2 separate regions of the Homo sapiens genome follow, and region 1 is linked to region 2. The links come from fine-mapping of genetic effects on gene expression. A gene starts in region 2. The other region holds a variant in brackets. All regions are shown on one strand. Distances are from middle to middle. Region 1 overlaps VSTM1 (V-set and transmembrane domain containing 1). Region 2 holds the start of TARM1 (T cell-interacting, activating receptor on myeloid cells 1).

What was found. PIP is the estimated chance that this variant, and not a neighbour inherited with it, causes the effect.
Region 1: its variant is fine-mapped to the expression of TARM1 in whole blood (TOPMed, PIP above 0.99).

What each region holds. Positions count from the first base shown.
Region 1 is chr19:54,046,650-54,055,375 of GRCh38, forward strand. It overlaps VSTM1 (V-set and transmembrane domain containing 1), which reads right to left. Exons shown (of 9, transcript NM_198481.4): 4 at 4,761-4,799. Among named protein-coding and RNA genes, the nearest start is that of VSTM1, 13 kb to the right of the region's middle. The variant G/A (reference allele first, on the strand shown) is at 5,205.
Region 2 is chr19:54,077,209-54,085,934 of GRCh38, forward strand. TARM1 (T cell-interacting, activating receptor on myeloid cells 1) reads right to left here and starts at 4,157. Exons shown (of 5, transcript NM_001135686.3): 1 at 4,099-4,157. The coding sequence starts at 4,132.

The sequences.
Region 1 (8,726 bases), 31 kb before region 2:
TCCAAAGTGAACATTTGTATCTCTTCTTTGGGGGACTGCCTGGGAGAACTCCAAATGCCTTGGAATTTACATGCCCGGGACAAACTGCCACTGACGGCTGTGGGGACCCCAGCTCCCTAGCCTCTGGTCTTCGACCTTCTCTGTCTCCACTGCTTTCTGCAGGATGGAGCCAAAGATACCATCTGAGGGACACAGATATCCCACACTTGTTTAATCTATTTTCCTCCCAGCCCTTCTTCCCCACTCCCTAAAATGTAATTTTCAAGCCAGGCGTGGTGGCTCACACCTGTAATCCCAGCACTTTGGGAGGTCGAGGCAGGCAGAGCACCTGAGGTCAGGAGTTCGAGACCAGCCTGACCAACATGGAGAAACCCCGTCTCTACTAAAAATAGAATATTAGCTGGGTGTGGTGGTGCATGCCTGTAATCCCAGCTATTTGGGAGGCTGAGGCAGGAGAATCTCTTGAACCTGGTAGGCGGAGGTTGCAGTGAGCCAAGATCACGCCATTGCACTCCAGCCTGGGCAACAAGAGCGAAACTCTGTCTCAAAACTAAATAAATAATAAATAAAATAAAACGTCACTTTCACACTAATGCTGTCTAAGAGCCTGCTTCTGGTGGAGCTGAATCAGAGAACCCCTCAAAAGCAACAATTTTTTTTTTTTTGAGACAGTCTCACTCTGTCTCCCAGGCTGGAGTGCAGTGGTACAATCTCGGCTTTGGAACCTCCCCCTCTGGGGTTCAAGCAATTCTCCTGCCTCAGCCTCCCAAGGAGCTGGGATTACAAGCACCCGCCACCTCACCCCGCTAATTTTTTATATTTCTAGTAGAGATGAGGTTTCACCATGTTGGTTAGGCTGGTCTCAAACTCCAGAGCTCAAGTGTTCTGCCCACTTTGGCCTCCCAAAGTGCTGGGATTACATAAGCCACCATGCCTGGCCATAAGCAACAATTCTATCAGTGCATCTCCAAGGACTTATGAAAACAGGGCAGGAACAGCTGCTCCTGGACTCTCAGTTTCCCCAGATGGAAGCAGAGAAACAGCAGCCTTGCCTTGTCCTTTCTGTTCTCCCCTTTTCCAGCCTACGGTATCTTTCACACAGCAATTCACTAGAAATGAGAAGTACATTATTGCAAAATTCTCATCTTCATATGACCCCATAATCAGCTGAACTGGGTTCACCCTGAGATGTCCACAGATCCTGGCCAAATGTTGCATCAGTATTTGCAAATTGCCAGAATAAATCATAACTTGCTACGCTACTAAAGTCAGCGTGAGCAACAAGATACAGCCTGACACGGGGCATAAATGGAGGCACAGGCACCAGAAAGAAAGTCAAGTCTTGTGTGATAAAATTCATCTTCATTCTCTACATTGCGATTGAACATAGAGTCGTTTTCTAGTGTGTTTTAGGCATATAAATACAGGCTGGGGACATCATACCTGTGCTTACAGATATTTTACTTTTATTTTATTTATTTACTGAAACAGGGTCTCGCTCTGTCACCCAGGCTGGAGTGCTGTGGCGCAATCACAGTTCACTGAAGCCTCAACCTCCTGGGCGCAAACGATCTTTCTGCCTGAGCCTCCCAAGTAGCTGGGACTACAGGTGCACACCACCACGCCTGGCTAATTTTTGTATTTTTTGTAGAGATGGGATCTTACCAAGTTGTCCAGGCTGGTCTTGAACCCCTGGGCTCAAGTGATCCTCCTGCCTCATCTTCCCAAAGTCCTGGTATTACAGACGTGAGCCACTGCGCCCGGCAAAGATATTTTATTCTGTTTAGAATTGTGATGATACAAATTTGAACTCAAAAAGTACATTTTAAGAAATTATATAATACCCACTGGGATGGCTATAATTTAAAAAAAGAAAAGTAAGTGTTGACAAGGATGTGGAGATATTGGAACCCACATATATTACTGGAAGGAATATAACATGATACAGCCACAATGGAAAATGATTTGGCAGTTCCTCAAAAAGTTGAACATAATAGTCACCATATGTCCTAGCAAATCCACTTCTAGGTACATACTCAAGATAATTTACAGCGCGGAGACAAACAGATACTCCTACCACAGTGTTCCAGCACCATTACTCGCTTTAGCCAAGAGGTGCAGACAACACAAATGTCCATCAAAAGAAGAACGGGGCCAGGCACAGTAGCTCAAGTCTGTAATCCCAGCACTTTGGGAAGCTGAGGCGTGTGGATCACCTGAGGTCAGGAGTTCGAGACCAGCCTAGCCAACATGGTGAAACCCCCTCTCTACTAAAAATACACAAATTAGCTAGGCATGGTGACGGGCGCCTGTAGGTCCAGCTACTCAGGAGGTTAAGGCAAAAGAATCACTTAAACCTGGGAGGCGGAGGTTGCAGTGAGCTGAGATTGTGCCACTGCACTCCAGCCTGGGCGACAGAGCAAGACTCCGTCTCAAAAAAACAAAAACAAAAACAAAAAAAAGAATGGATAAGCAAAATGTGGTCTATCCATACAATACGATGCTTTTCACCATGACAAGAAATGAAACATTGATGCATGCTACAGTACAGACAAACTTTGAAAACATTATGCTAAAGAGAAAGGAGCTAGTCACAAAGGATCACATAGTGTATGAATCCACTTACACAAAATGTCCAGAATAGACAAAATCATAGACACAGAGAAGCATATGAATGGTTGGAAGGGCCTGGTGGGAAAGTGGGAAATGAGGAGTGACTGCTTAATGGGTACAAGATTTTCTTTTAGGGTGATGAGAATGTTCTGGAATTATGTAGTGGTGATGGTTATACTACCTCATGAAGATACAAAATGCCAGTGAATTGGACACTTTACAAGGGTGAATTTTTGGACTGTGAATTATATATCAATAAAAAAAGAAAGAAAATAAATGATACAAGAGCTCAAAATAGAAAAGCTTCTCTTCCTCCTCCCCCTCACACCTCACTAGATCTCCCACCTCGTTTCTGATACTTCTGTGTTCCTCTCTCCCATTAGATTTCATATCTTTCTCAGAAAACGTTCCTGACGTGAATTGTGTTCGTAGTGCTAGGGTAGCAGACATTTCCCAAGCCTACTATCATGGAATAAAAACGTTTCAAATAGTTATCTTGCAAGAACACTTTGGAGGATACCTTTTTGAAAACCGATTATACCAGCACAGACTGCTAGCAACAACCTTCAGCAACTTTGGCTCTTTGGAGTAGGTTGCAGGAAGATTATGACTTGCTGAAAGGAAGGATGATTAAGCATCTAGATGCCAATTTATATTCTGCATTTGGCCCTTAAAGTCTGGATGAGTTCCTGTTTCAGCCGAATGCTGCCAAAAGCTCTAACTTTTTAATTTTTTTTTTTTTTTTTTTTTTTTGGAGACAGAGTCTCACTCTGTTGCCCAGGCTGGAGGGCAGTGGTGTAATCTCGGCTCACTGCAACCTCTGCCTCCCAGGTTCAAGCAATTCTCCTGCCTCAGTCACTTGAGTAGCTGGGAATACAGGCGCCCACCACAATGCCCAGCAAATTTTTGTATTTTTAGTAGAGACAGGGTTTCACCATGTTGCCCAGGCTGGTTTCGAACTCCTGACCTCAGGTGATCCGCCCACCTCGGCCTCCCAAAGTGCTGGGATTACAGATGTGAGCCACCTCGCCTGGCCCAAAAGCTCTAATTTTTATGAGAAACTCTGAGGACAGAATCTTAGTCAATTGTTAATGAATAAGCAACATTAGAAAAAAAATTCAATATTCACCTATTTTTGAGAATTTTAGAGTTATAACAAACTCTTGATTATATATATTCCTGAAGTACCTACTCTGCGTAGGTCCTGGTCCTACTCCCCAAATGGGTCACTGAAAAATTCACCCCCATTATTCCCCAAATCCCACCCTAGTTTTTCATCATGTCATATGGCAAACAACGCACTCTGTGCTGTTTTACACACCAGCTTCTTCAGAACCCGGAAGCACTTTAGAGGTTATCTCCCCTCATCCTCCACCCCCCAAAACACAGCAGTTTCCCCAATAACATTGAGAAAATGGGCTTTAAAGTTCTTCTAGGCCGGGTGCGGTGGCTCATGCCTGTAATCCCAACACTTTGAGAGGCCGAGGCGGGGGAATTGCTTGAGGTCAGGAGTTTGATACCAGCCTGGCCAACATGGTGAAACCCCATCTCTACTAAAAACAAAAAACAAAAAACAAAACTGAGCTGGATATGGTGGTGGGTGCCTGTAATCCCAGCTATTCGGGAGGCCGAGGCAGGAGAATTGCTTGAACCCAGAACCCAGGAAGTGGAGGTTGCAGTGAGCTGAGATTGTGCCACTTCACGCCACCCTGGGGGACAGAACAAGACTCTTTCTCAAAAAAATAAATAGGCCGTGTGCGGTGGCTCACGCCTGTAATCCCAGCACTTTGGGAGGCTGAGGCGGGCAGATCACAAGGTCAGGAGTTCGAGACCAGCCTGGCCAACATGGTGAAACCCCGTCTCTACTAAAAATACAAAAATTAGCTGGGTGTGGTGGTGCGTGCCTGTAGTCCCAGCTATTCGGGAGGCTGAGGCAGGAAAATTGCTTGAATCCGGGAGGCGAAGGTTGCAGTGAGCTGAGATTGCGCCACTGTACTCCAGCCTTGGTGACAAAGCGAGACTCTATCTCAAAAAACAAACAAACAAACAAACAAACAAATAAATAAAGTTCTCCTTGTGCACTTTAAGCAAAGGTGATCATGAAGCAGATCTCATTGGGAAAAACATCTCCTTTCTAATTATCTTACCTGTTTTCATTGAGGGAGCTTCAAGTTCATCGTGTTTATCTAGAAAATAGGAGGGAAGAAAAGGAATTACACTAATCATACAGGAACCTTGGGGACAGGAGTCCTCACGTCCTACTTATAGACATCCTGTTCTTCTTTGGGAAGCAGAAAAGAGAATGGCTTCTCCATTCCCTAGATGCTCCCTGGGTCCTCAGAGCATGGACAGAGCCTCAGATTACTCTTCTTAATAGTCCTGGAGTTTGATAGTATTTTTAATAACAAAAATATTTATGAATGACCCTGCTAACGCCCCCTCCAGTTTGATTCCTTGCCAGTCTTCTCTATCTTGACAAAGAACACCATTCACCCAAATTCTTTCTTTCTTTTATTTTTTTTGAGTCTTGCACTGTTACCCAAGCTGGAGTGCAGTGGCATGATCTCAGCTCACTGCAACCTCCGCCTCCC[G/A]GGTTCAAGAGATTCTCCTGCCTCAGCCTTCCAAGTAGCTGGGACTACAGGCGCCCGCCACCACACCCTGCTAATTTTTGTATTTTTAGTAGAGACAGGGTTTCACCATGTTGGCCAGGCTGGTCTCAAACTCCTGGCCTCAAGTGATCAACCTGCCTTGGCCACTCAGAATACTGGGATTCCAGGCATGAGCCACTGCACCTGGCCTATATTTCTATCTCCACAGTGGCACCATTTAGTCTAAGTTAAAATATCACCTACTTGGCCGGGCGCAGTGGCTCACGCCTGTAATCCCAGCACTTTGGGAGGCCGAGGCGGGCAGATCACAAGGTCAGGAGATCGAGACCATCCTGGCTAACATGGTGAAACCCCGTCTCTACTAAAAATACAAAAAGTTAGCCGAGCGTGGTGGCGGGCCCCTGTAGTCCCAGCTACTCGGGAGGCTGAGGCAGGAGAATGGCGTGAACCCGGGAGGCGGAGCTTGCAGTGAGCCGAGATCGCGCCACTGCACTCCAGCCTGAGGGACAGAGCCAGACTCCGTCTCAAAAAAAAAATAAAAATAAAAATAAAAATGAAATGAAATATCACCTACTCACCAGTCCCTGGCAACCACCAGTTGCTTCTGTGAGTTTGGCTTTTTTAGACTACACATATGAGTGAGATCCTGCAGAATTTGTCTTTCTGAGTCTGGCTTATTTTGTTTAGCATGATATATGCGGAGATGTTGATGAAAGGGTATAAGTTTCCAGTTCTAAGATGAAGAAGTTCAGGTGCTCAGCATGGTGGCAATGGATGTGCTAATTAATTTGACTGTGATAATCATTACACAATGTACAGGTGGATCAAATCATCAGATTGTATACCTTGAATATATACAATCTTCATTTGTCAATTTGATATTTTTAAATTTAAAAAGTCGTATTGCCTGAAACGCACCAACTCTTACTACATCTAGTCCCTTATTTTCCAAAAGCAGCCAGAGGCCGGGCATGATGGCCTGTGCCTGTAATCTCAGATGCTTGGGAGGCTGAGGTGGGAGGATTACCTGGGCCTGGGAGGTCAAGGCTGCAGTGAGCTGTGATTGCACCACTGCACTCCAGCCTGGGCAACCGAGTGGGACCCTGTCTCAAAAAAAAAAAAAAAAAAAAAAGCAGCCAGTGACCCTTCCAGCATATAAATAAAATCATGCCATCCTCCAGCTCAACTTCATCAGTGGGTTCCTGTTCTTTCAAAGCAGACTCTAGGACCAGTTCAAACACCCACAAGATCCTAGATGCTCTAGGCCCTGCCTTATGTCCTCCTTTCTGTGTCTCAATCATTCCAGGAACACTCACACTTCTGAGACTTTGCTTTTGCTGCTCTCTCTCCCTGGAGGGCTGTTCTCCAGATATCGGTGTGGTTGGGTCATTCTCATCCTTCATGCTTGTGGCAGATAGACCCTAAGGGGGCACTCAGGAGACTCAGGAGCCCTGCTTCCTGGTGTTCATGCCTTTGTCTAATCCCCTCACCTTGAGTGTGGAGATCTGTGACTTTCTTCTCACCAATAGCTATGGCAAAGGTGATGGGATGTTATGCTCTTGATTATGTTACATTACATAAAACTCTGTTTGCTAGGGCATTTGCTCTCTCTTTCTTCTCTCTCTCTCAATCTCTCTTCTTGCAAGTGCTGCAGAATCATTCTAGCATGAATCCTACAGCTATAAAGAACCAGATATTGCTATCAACCACAGGAGTGGAGAAATGGACCCTTCCCCAGTCAAGCCTCCAGATGAGCCAGATGAGAACACAGCCCTTGTTGACACCTTGATTGCATCCTTATGAGACCCAAAGCAGAGGACTCAGCTAAGCTGTGCCTGGACTCCTGACCCACATCAACTGTGAGATAATAAATAGGTGTTTCAGGCTGCTAAATTAGTGGTAATTTGTTATGCAGCTGTAGATCACTAATACAATGCCTCTCACAGTTATTCTCCATCTATAATGTGTTTTTTAATTACTCTGATAGCTTGCTCTTATTTCTTTCTTTCTTCCAAAGAAGAATGTGAGCTCCTGTTGGCCAGAGACCTGGTCTGTCTCAGTTCCTACAATATGCTCAGGATCTACCAAAGTATCTGAATTTGTAGGGTGAATGGGCAGCTATTTTTGTGCCAGGTATTTTGCATTAATTTTTTTTTGTAATGGAAGCATTTATATGCCCATTTTGTAATAAGTAAAAAGTAGTATAATAAAAAAGTAAAAAGTAGTATAATAAAGTGATTTGCAAAGCAGCAAACAGATTGTATATGGAAGGCTGACCTGGAAAATCAACCACTGGAAATTGATACTATAGCCTGTCTTGTGATGTAATGGTACAGCTGCGATAGAGGTGAAGAAATCAGGAAACAGTAGATGATATGCCAGAGAACATAATTGGGAAATGGCAAATAATCGCGAGGCTTTTAGGGCTAAAGTGTGGGTGCAGAAATTCTTAAGACTACAAGAACGAGTTATGGGGAATACAATTTGAAATCAATATCAAAGTGATGAGCACCTTGTTGGAGTATCATTGATCAAGAGCCTCAGAAAGAGGGTAAATCAGAGGTGAAACATTAAGTATTCAGTTACTCATCATGCCCCAAGCCCAGGCTAAGTCATTGGTGTGGACCCACGGCTACTTCTACACTACACTGATGACTGTAAAGTCTCTCCAGGGATTTCCCATGATATGGCAGGACTGACCTACTGGAAGCAACTGTGGTCAGTTGAGAGGTATTGTTTAGTGACTAATAAATGAATGGATGAATGGATGGATGGATGGATGGATGGATGGATAGATGGATAGGTGGGTGGGGGTGAGTGAATGGGTGAAAGGGTGGATGAGTGGATGAATGGGTGGAAGGATGGACAAATGAGTGGCTGGGTAAATAGATGGGTAGGTAGGTAGATAGATGGATGAAGGGGTGGGTGGACAGATGAATGGAAGGGTTGGTGGTTGGATGGATTAATGGATAGATGAATGGATGGATGGATGGATGGATGGATGGATGGATGAGTTGATGGATAGATGGATAAGTGAGTGGATGGATGGGTGAATGAGTGGGTAGGAGGGTGGATGGGTTGGTAGGTGGGTAGATGGGTGGGTGGGTTGATAGATGGGTGGGTAGATTGATAGATGGATGGGTGAGTAGATAAATGGGTAGATGAAAGTGATGCAAAATTATTCTTTATCCCTCTTCCTTGGGATCTCAAGTCATGTATGTTACAATCCTCCCACGTGCATCTTCTCACTGTGGTCCTCATCATTTTTTTTTCAGTTACCTGCACCGTGCCTCCCATACTTTTCCACACAATGGGATCTCTTAGCCCCACAATCCATTATTTGCCATTCCTACATCCCTCATAGAGCACTGGACACTCTTTCTGGCTTTCCTTCTCTGGCATAATGAAATATAAATTTTCATTTATGTCTGAATAGCAACTGTGAAGCTCATTGTTTTTGTGACACCGGGGAGGTCACCTAATCTCTATGAGCAAAAAGAAGTT
Region 2 (8,726 bases):
CGTCTCTACTAAAAATACAAAAATTAGCCAGGTGTGGTGATGGGCGCCTGTGATCCCAGCTACTCAGGAGGCTGAGGCAGAGAATCGCTTGAACCCAGGAGGCAGAGTTTGCAATGAGCTGAGATCGCACCACTGCACTCCAGCCTGGCCACAGCGCGAGACTCAGTTTCAGGAAAGAAAAAAAAAAGAGAAAGAAAAGAAAAAACATAATATCAAGCCTGTTTATGAACATTATCATAATAATGAGATTGATCTAACTCAAAGAAAGTTAGTTAGGCCTGTGTCTCTGAGAGATTTCCTCTTTTTCCCCTGTGTGAACAGTTTTAGGTCTCAGCAGGAAAAAGGAGAAGTTACCAGGCGTTTGTGCTACTATTACATCCATGAGCCAATCCATAAACTGACACTTCAAGTTTTGCAAAAGGAAATTGTGAACACCCAAAATGTTCAAACAACGTAAGTGTCCATCCATGGAAGAATGGATAAACACAGTGTGCTCTATATATTCAATGGGATTTTTCTTCTTTTTCTTCGTTTTTTTTTTTTTTTTTTTTGAGACATAGTTTCATTCTTGTTGCCCAGGCTGGAGTGCAATGGCGCGATCTCGGCTCACTGCAACCTCCGCCTCGCGGGTTCAAGTGATTCTCCTGCCTCAGCCTCCCAAGTAGCTGGGATTACAGCTCACTGCAACCTCCGCCTTGCAGGTTCAAGTGATTCTCCTGCCTCAGCCTCCCAAGTAGCTGGGATTACAGCTCACTGCAACCTCCGCCTTGTGGGTTCAAGTGATTCTCCTGCCTCAGCCTCCCAAGTAGCTGGGATTACAGGCATGCACCACCATGCCCAGCTAATTTTGTATTTTTTAGTAGAGACAGGGTTTCACCATGTTGGTCAGGCTGGTCTTGAACTCCCCACCTCAGGTGATCCGCCCATCTTAGCCTCCAAAATGCTTTTTTCTTTTTCTTTTCTTTCTTTCTTTTTTTTTTTTTTTTTTTTTTTTTGAGGCAGGGTCTCGCTCTGCTGCCCAGGCTGGAGTGCAATGATGTGATCCTAGTTCATTCCAGCATCAACTCCCTGGGCTCAGGTGATCCTCCCACCTCTGCCTCCCGAGTAGCTGGGACTACAGCTGCACACCACCATGCCCAGCTCATTTTTGTTGTTGTTGTTGTTTTTAATATTTATTTATTTATTTTGAGATGGAGTTTCGCTCTTGTTGCCCAGACTGGAGTGCAATGGCATGATCTCGGCTCACTGCAACCTCTGACTCCTGGGTTCAAGCGATTCTCTTGCCTCAGCCTCCCAAGTAGCTGGGATTACAGGCGCCCGCCACCACGCATGGCTAATTTTTATATTTTTAGTAGAAATGGGGTTTCACCCTATTGGCCAGGCTGTTCTCGAACTCCTTACGTCAGGTCATTGCAAAAAAAGTGCTGGGATTACAGGCGTGAGCCACCATGCCCAGCCTCATTTTTGTATTTTTTGTAGAGACAGGGTTTCACCATGTTGCCCAGGCTAGTCTCGAACTCCTGGGCTCAAGCGATCTGCCTGCCTCAGACTCTCAAAGTGCTGGGATTACAGGTGTGAGACACTGTGCTCGGCCTACAGTGGGATTTTAGCCATAAAAAGGAAAGGAAATCTGACATATCCTACAATATAGATGTAGCTCGAGGATATTATGCTGAGTAAACTAAGTCAGGCAAAAAAGAACAAGTGTTATGATTCCACTCATACATCCTAGAATAAGCAAATTCATAGAGATAAAAATTAGAATGGGCTGGACACGGTGGCTCACGCCTGTAATCCCAGCACTTTGGGAGGCCGAGACAGGCAGATCACAAAGTCAGGAGATCGAGACCAGCCTGGTCAACATGGTGAAACCTTGTCTCTACTAAAAAAAAAAAAAAAAAAAAACTTAGCCAGGCATGGTGGTGAGCGCCAGTGATCCCAGCTACTCGGGAGGGAGAGGCAGGAGAATCGCTTGAACCCAGGAGGCGGAGGTTGCAGTGAGCTGAGATTAGGCCACTGTACTCCAGCCTGGGTGACGAAGCAAGACTCCATCTCCGAAAAAAAAAAAAAAAAAAGAAATTAGAATGGAGGTTACCAGGGGCTGGGAGGACCGCGGCAAATACAGAGTTATTGGTTAGAGGGTGTAGCGTTCATATTGGGAATTGTGATTGTTAATTTGATTTATCAGCTAGACCAGGCCACAGGATGCTGGGATATCTGGTTAAACATTATTTCTGGGCGTGTCTGTGAGGGTGTTTTTAGAAAGATCAGCATTTGAATCTAATGCTGAGTCGGGCAGGTTGGCCTTCCTAATGGAGGTGGGTATTCTGCTGAGGGCCAGGATGGGAGAAAAAGGTGGCAGAGCCACCACAGTGGCTCACGCCTGTAATCCCAGCACTTTGGGAGGCCAAGGCAGAAGGGCTGCTTGAGGCCAGGAGTTTGAGACCAGCCTGAGTAACATAGTGAGATCCCGTCTCTACAAAAAATTTAAAAATTACACGGGGCACTGTGGCTCACGCCTGTAATCCCAGCACTTTGGGAGGCTGAGGCTGAGGCGGGCAGATCACCTGAGGTGATCACCTGAGGGAGCTCAAGACCAGCCTGGCCAACATGATGAAACCCCGTCTCTACTAAAAAGTACAAAAAATCAGCCGGGTGTGTGGTGGGCACCTGTAATCTCAGCTACCCAGGAGGCTGAGGCAGGAGAATTGCTTGAGCCCAGGAGGTGGAGGCTGCAGTGAGCTGTGGTCATACCACTGCACTCCAGCCTGGGTACAGAGTGAGACTTTGTCTCAAAAAAAGGAAAAGGAGGGAAGGAAGGAAGGAAGGAAGGAAGGAAGGGAAAGAGAGAGAGGAAGGAAGGAATGAAGGAGAAAGAGAAAGAAAGGAAGGAAGGAAGGAAGGAAGGAAGGAAGGAAGGAAGGAAGGAAGAAAGCAAGCAAGCAAGCAAGCAAGCAAGCAAGCAAGCAAGCAAGCAAGCAAGCAGGCAAGCAAGCGGGGGCTCACGCCTGTAATCCCAGCACTTTGGGAGGCCGAGGCGGGCAGATCAAGAAGTCAGGAGATGGAGACCATCCTGGCTAACACAGTGAAACCTACGAAAAAAGCCGGGCATGGTGGCGGGCGCCTGTAGTCCCAGCTACTCGGGAGGCTGAGGCAGGAGAATGGCGTGAACCCGGGAGGCGGAGCTTGCAGTGAGCAGAGATCGCACCACTGCACTCCAGCCTGGGCGACAGAGCGAGACTCCATCTCAAAAAAAAAAAAAAGAAAGAGAGAGAGAGGAAGGAAGGGAGGAAGGAAGGAAGGAAGGAAGGAAGGAAGGAAGGAAGGAAGGAAGGGAAGGAGAAAAAGAAAGAAAGGAAGGAAGGAAGGAAGAAAGAAAGAGGTTTTAGTGTAGATAGTGGTGATGGTTACACAGCGGCCTCAATTTACTTTATAGTTATCTATTTGACACTAAATTTTTATTTATGGTATTAAGGTTTCTGGGCCAGGCACAGTGGCTCACATCTGTAATCCCAGCACTTTGAGAGACTGAGGTGGGCAGATCACCTGAGGTCGGGAGTTCGAGACCAGCCTGGCCAACATGGTGAAACACCGTCTCTACTAAAAATACAAAAATTAACCAGGCATGGTGGCGCACCCCTGTAATCCAGTTACTCAGGAGGCTGAAGCAGGAGAATCGCTTGAACCCGGGAGGCAGAGGTTGTGGTGAGCCGAGATCACGCCATTGCACTACAGCCTGGGCAACAAGAGCAAAACCCTGTCTCAAAAAAATAAAATAAAATAAAATAAAATAAGGTTTCTATTCTGAATACTTTTACTTACACACAAAAAGTCAGAGTTGATCCTGAGAAAAGGGGTAAGCCAATGAAGCCAGGTGGTGGAGGCATTCAGCAAAACTCACGAAGTTGAAACTACAGGAGTTGAAGTTTGCAGAGCACTCGTTTCCAGGGAATGTCTGCAGTGCACTCAGCAGGACGTCTCACTCCTCCCGTGTGCTCAGTAAGCCAAAGTTGATGTTATTATTTCCATCCCCAGCCCAACTATCCCACCAGTTCCATGATTTTCTGCAGTCCCAGTGGATAGCCCTGTGAGACTTACTGAAACAGAGGAGGGAAAGCAGCTTAGGGATCATGATGGCTCCTTAGCCCTCCCAGAGTCCGTCTTGGGTTCTGCAGTCCACAGATGGGAGAAGAGCTGGAGTCGTCGCTGCCTCTCTCCCACCCCAGAGTGTGGGCAGTAACAGCCTTTCCTAGCCTTTCAGTTTCCCCTCCCATATCCACATTCAGGAAACATGTTGATGTTGCTGATTGCAACATGCTCCTTACACACACCAGTGTTCGAGCACTTGACTCACAGGAAATGCTCCTCTGTCTCAGGCAGATTTCAGGCATCAAACAGGTAACCCCGAAAATGCTTCAGACTTGGCCCTGAAGGGTTCGTATTGAAGAGATGAAAGCACTTCACTCTTTTTTTTTTTTTTGAGATGGTGTCTGGTTCTGTTACCTGGGCTGGAGTCCAGTGGCACGATCTCAGGTCATTGCAACTTCAGCCTCCTGGGTTCAAGCAATTCTCCGGCCTCAGCCTCCCAAGTAGCTGGGATTATAGGCGCATGCCACCATGCCCGGCTAATGTTTGTATTTTTAGTTAAGATGAGGTTTCACAAGTTAGCTGGGCTAGTCTTGAACTCCTCGCCTCAAGTGATCCACCTGCCTCGGCCTCCCAAACTGCTGGGATTACAGGCATGAGCCACTGTGCCAGGCCTTCATCACCATTTTTTTTTTCTTTTGAGACAGAGTTCCACTCTTTCGCCCAGGCTGGAGTGAAGTGGCAAAATCTCATCTCATTGCAACCTCCAACCCCCAGGTTCAAGCGGTTCTCCTGCCTCAGCCTCCCAAGTAGCTGGGATTACAGGAGCCCTTCAACACGCCCAGTTAATTTTTGTATTTTTTAGTAGAGATGAGGTTTCACCATGTTGGCCAGGCTGGTCTCAAACTCCTGATCTCAAGTGATCCACCCACCTCAGCCTCCCAAAGTGCTGGGATTACAGGCATGAGCCACTGTGCCCAGCCAGTCATGAGCTCATTTTTTAAGTTCAGAATATTTCAGTACATATCTATCTTTATCAAATAAGAACCATTTTAAAAATAATATAAGCACCACAGCACTGTCACATCAAGAAAGTTAAGAGTACCTCCTTGATACCAGCTAATACCCATTCAGTACTCAAATTTCCCTGATTGTCTCAAAAATGTCATTTCTATCAGGTTTTTAAAGAATAAATCAGGATCCAATAAAAGTCTACAGATTGCATTTGATAATTATGTTAATTTAGCCTGGCGCAGTGGCTCATGCCTGTAATCCCAACACTTTGGGAGACCGGGGCAGGTAGATAACCTGAGGTCAGGAGTTCGAGACCAGCCTGGCCAACCATGGTGAAACCTCATCTCTACTAAAAATACAAAAATTAGCTGGGCGTGGTGGTGCACGCCTGTAATCCCAGCTACTCAGGAGGCTGAGGCAGGAGAACTGCTTGAACCTGGGAGGCAAAGGTTGCAGTGAGCTGAGATCGCACCATTGCACTCCAGCCTGGGCAACAGAGTGAGACTCAGTCTCAAAAAAAAAAAAAAATGTTAATTTGAATCAGACAAAATTTTTTATTTTTTTGTTAAAATAAGAAATCAAGCAAGTTAGTTTTTAACCATGTTTTTTTTCATCTTGCATTTGGAAGAAGAGCAAAATGCCCCGAAGTCTCGTTTTTGTTTTCGGATTTTTTGTCTTGATAGCACCTACTCTTCTTACTGTTTTGGAACATAGAAAAGTCAACAAGGCAACAAATTATAAGGAGTAAAACCAACTATAATTACAGGTGTTTCTTTGAAAGTTATTTTCACAAGATGTGGCAATGATTTTTAAAGGCTTGGGACTCTTACAAGACCCTTTTGTTCAAATAACAGTTTTGTGTATGAATTTATTTCAACAGAGAACAATTTAGTAATGTTTGTGAATATTCATTTAGTTCTCCATATTGTACCAGAAAACAAGACTGATATTCTTGTGAATCTTCTCAATTCAACTCTTTATCAAATCAGATTCCTTAAATTAGTGTTGTGACTCAGAAAAAATCTTTCTCCTTATGCAGTATCAGGGAAAAGAGGACATCTCCTATATTTCTTCTTAACATCTCTGTTGCTAACAAGGAATATGCATATTTTAAAACTAGGCTCTGGAATTTTATCAGTCAACAGGAAAGGCCTGGTAAAGTTCCATTCCACTTGGAAATGAAGAAAGGAGACCCTGATTCAAAAAACGAAAAAAGAAAGAATAAAGAATAGCTTAGGGCCAGGCAAGGTGGATCACACCTGTAATCCTAAGATTTTGGGAGGTGAGGTAGGTGGAAGGCTTGATCCCAGGAGTTCAACACCAGCCTGGGCAACATGGCCTAATCCCATCTCTACAAAAAATACAAAAATTAGCCAGGCTTGGTGGTATATACCTGTAATCCCAGCTTCTCAGGAGGCTGAGGTGGGAGAATCACTTGAACCTGGGAGGGGGAGGTGGCAGTGAGCTGAGATCGCACCATTGTACCCCAGCCTGGGCAACAAGAGTGAAACTCCATCTCAAAAAATAATAATAAAATAAATAAATAAATAATCATTCACTTTGTTAGGTGTTTATCACACCTAACCTTAAGAATATGTTACCAAAATAAAAAGTCTTATAGATGAAATCATATTATATCTGAGGTTTACTTTAAAATACTCCAGGAGAAAATTTAAAATAGACTTGGGGGAGGGGACTTATCTGTAGTTATCTGCACATAATCTACATGATTATCTCAAAGCCATCCTTTTGCTGTTGAGAATTCTGATTTTTAGCTGGGCCCATTGGCACCCAGGTAAAAAACTACATTCTTCAGTGTCACTTACAGGTAGATGTAGCCGTAAGTCTTCATCTAGGACAATGATAAATAAGCATAAATATTGTAGACAGCTTCCAAAAGGTTCTTTAATGAAGTACACTTTCCTTCCTTCACTTAACTGCCTAAAATGTGGATGTGATGACTGGTATTCTAGCGTCATCTTGAACCATGAAGATGAGATGAGGTTCAAGATGGTGGAGGGTGAGCCAGAAGTAACTTAGGTCCATAATGCTTTTTGGAGTCACTGTGCCAGCCTTGGACTGCTCCCTTCAGATTTATTCTACATAAGGGAGAAATCAATTGGTATTAGTTTTAAGTCATCATTATTTAGTTCTCTTTTGGGTTTAGGTTATCAATTACTGTGTTAACAAACCACCCCAAAACTGAGTAACTTAGAGTAACAATCTTGTTTTTTTTTTTTTTTAATCATTCCTGATCTGGTGAGATGACTGGGCTCAGTTGAGCGGTTCTTCGGTTCAATGTGATGTCTTCCTGGGCTTCAGTCATCAGGGTGGCTCAACTGAGCTGGAATCTCCAAGATGGCACTTGCAAATGGCTGGCTGTTGATGCTGGATGTTGGTTGAAAGCTCGGCTAGGACTGTTGAATGATGTACCTGCACATGGCCTCTCCATTTGATTCAGACTTCTTGGAGGATAGCATCTGGGTTTCAAGAGGGGATGTCACAAGAGAGCTTTCTAAAATAGAGAAGGCGGCTGGGCATGGTGGCTCACGTCTGTAATCCCAGCACTTTGGGAGGCCGAGGTGGGTGGATCACCTGAGGTCAGGAGTTCAACATCAGCCTGGCCAACATGGTAAAACCCCGTCTCTACTAAAAACAAAATTAAAAAAAATTAGCCGGGTGTGTTTGTGCACACCTGTAATCCCAGCTACTCAGGAGGCCGAGGCAGGAGAATTGCTTGAACCTGGGAGGCGGAAGTTGCAGTGAGCCGAGATCACACCACTGCACTCCAGCCTGGGCAACAGAATGAGACTCTGTCTCAAATAAATAAATAAATAAATAAAATAAAGAAGGCAAAAGTTGTTTGTCCCTTTAAAGACTAAGCCTGGAACTGACACAGTTTCTCTTCTTCTACAGTCTTAAGGAAAGGCCAGATTCAAGGGGAGGGAAAATAAACTCTACCTCTCTATAGGGACAGTGACAAAGAATTGGAGGCCATCTTTAGTCTGTCATGTGTTATGGTCAATGGAAATAGATATATATATATTTACTGAGTGCCTGAGTCCCACCGAGAGATTTTAATTATTTTTTTATTTTTGTTTTTTTAAGATGGAATTTTGCTCTTGTTGCCCAGGCTGAAGTGCAATGGCATGATCTCAGCTCACTGCAACCTCTGCCTCCCGGGTTCAAGCGATTCTCCTGCCTCAGCCTCCCAAGTAGCTCGGATTACAGGCAAGTGCCACCACACCCAGTTAATTTTGTATTTTTTAGTAGAGATGGGATTTCTCCATGTTGGTCAGGCTGGTCTTGAACTCTTGACCTCAGGTGATCTGCCCACCTTGGCCTCCCAAAGTGCTGGGATTACAGGTGTGAGCCACCGTGCCCAGTCGAGATTTTAATTTTTATAATGGGTATAGGATGAGGCCTGGGTGTCTCATTCTGTGTTTTAAATGTTCCTGGGAAATTCTAATGTGCAGTCAAGTTTGAGAACCACTGGGTTGGAACACATAACCTCCTTCCCATCTCAGACCCTGAAACATCCTGAAAACTCCTGTATCTGGAGTTTTTCCCCCATTTTTGCTTGGCTAACTTTGACTCTTCCCTCAGAAACCAGCTTCAGAATCTTT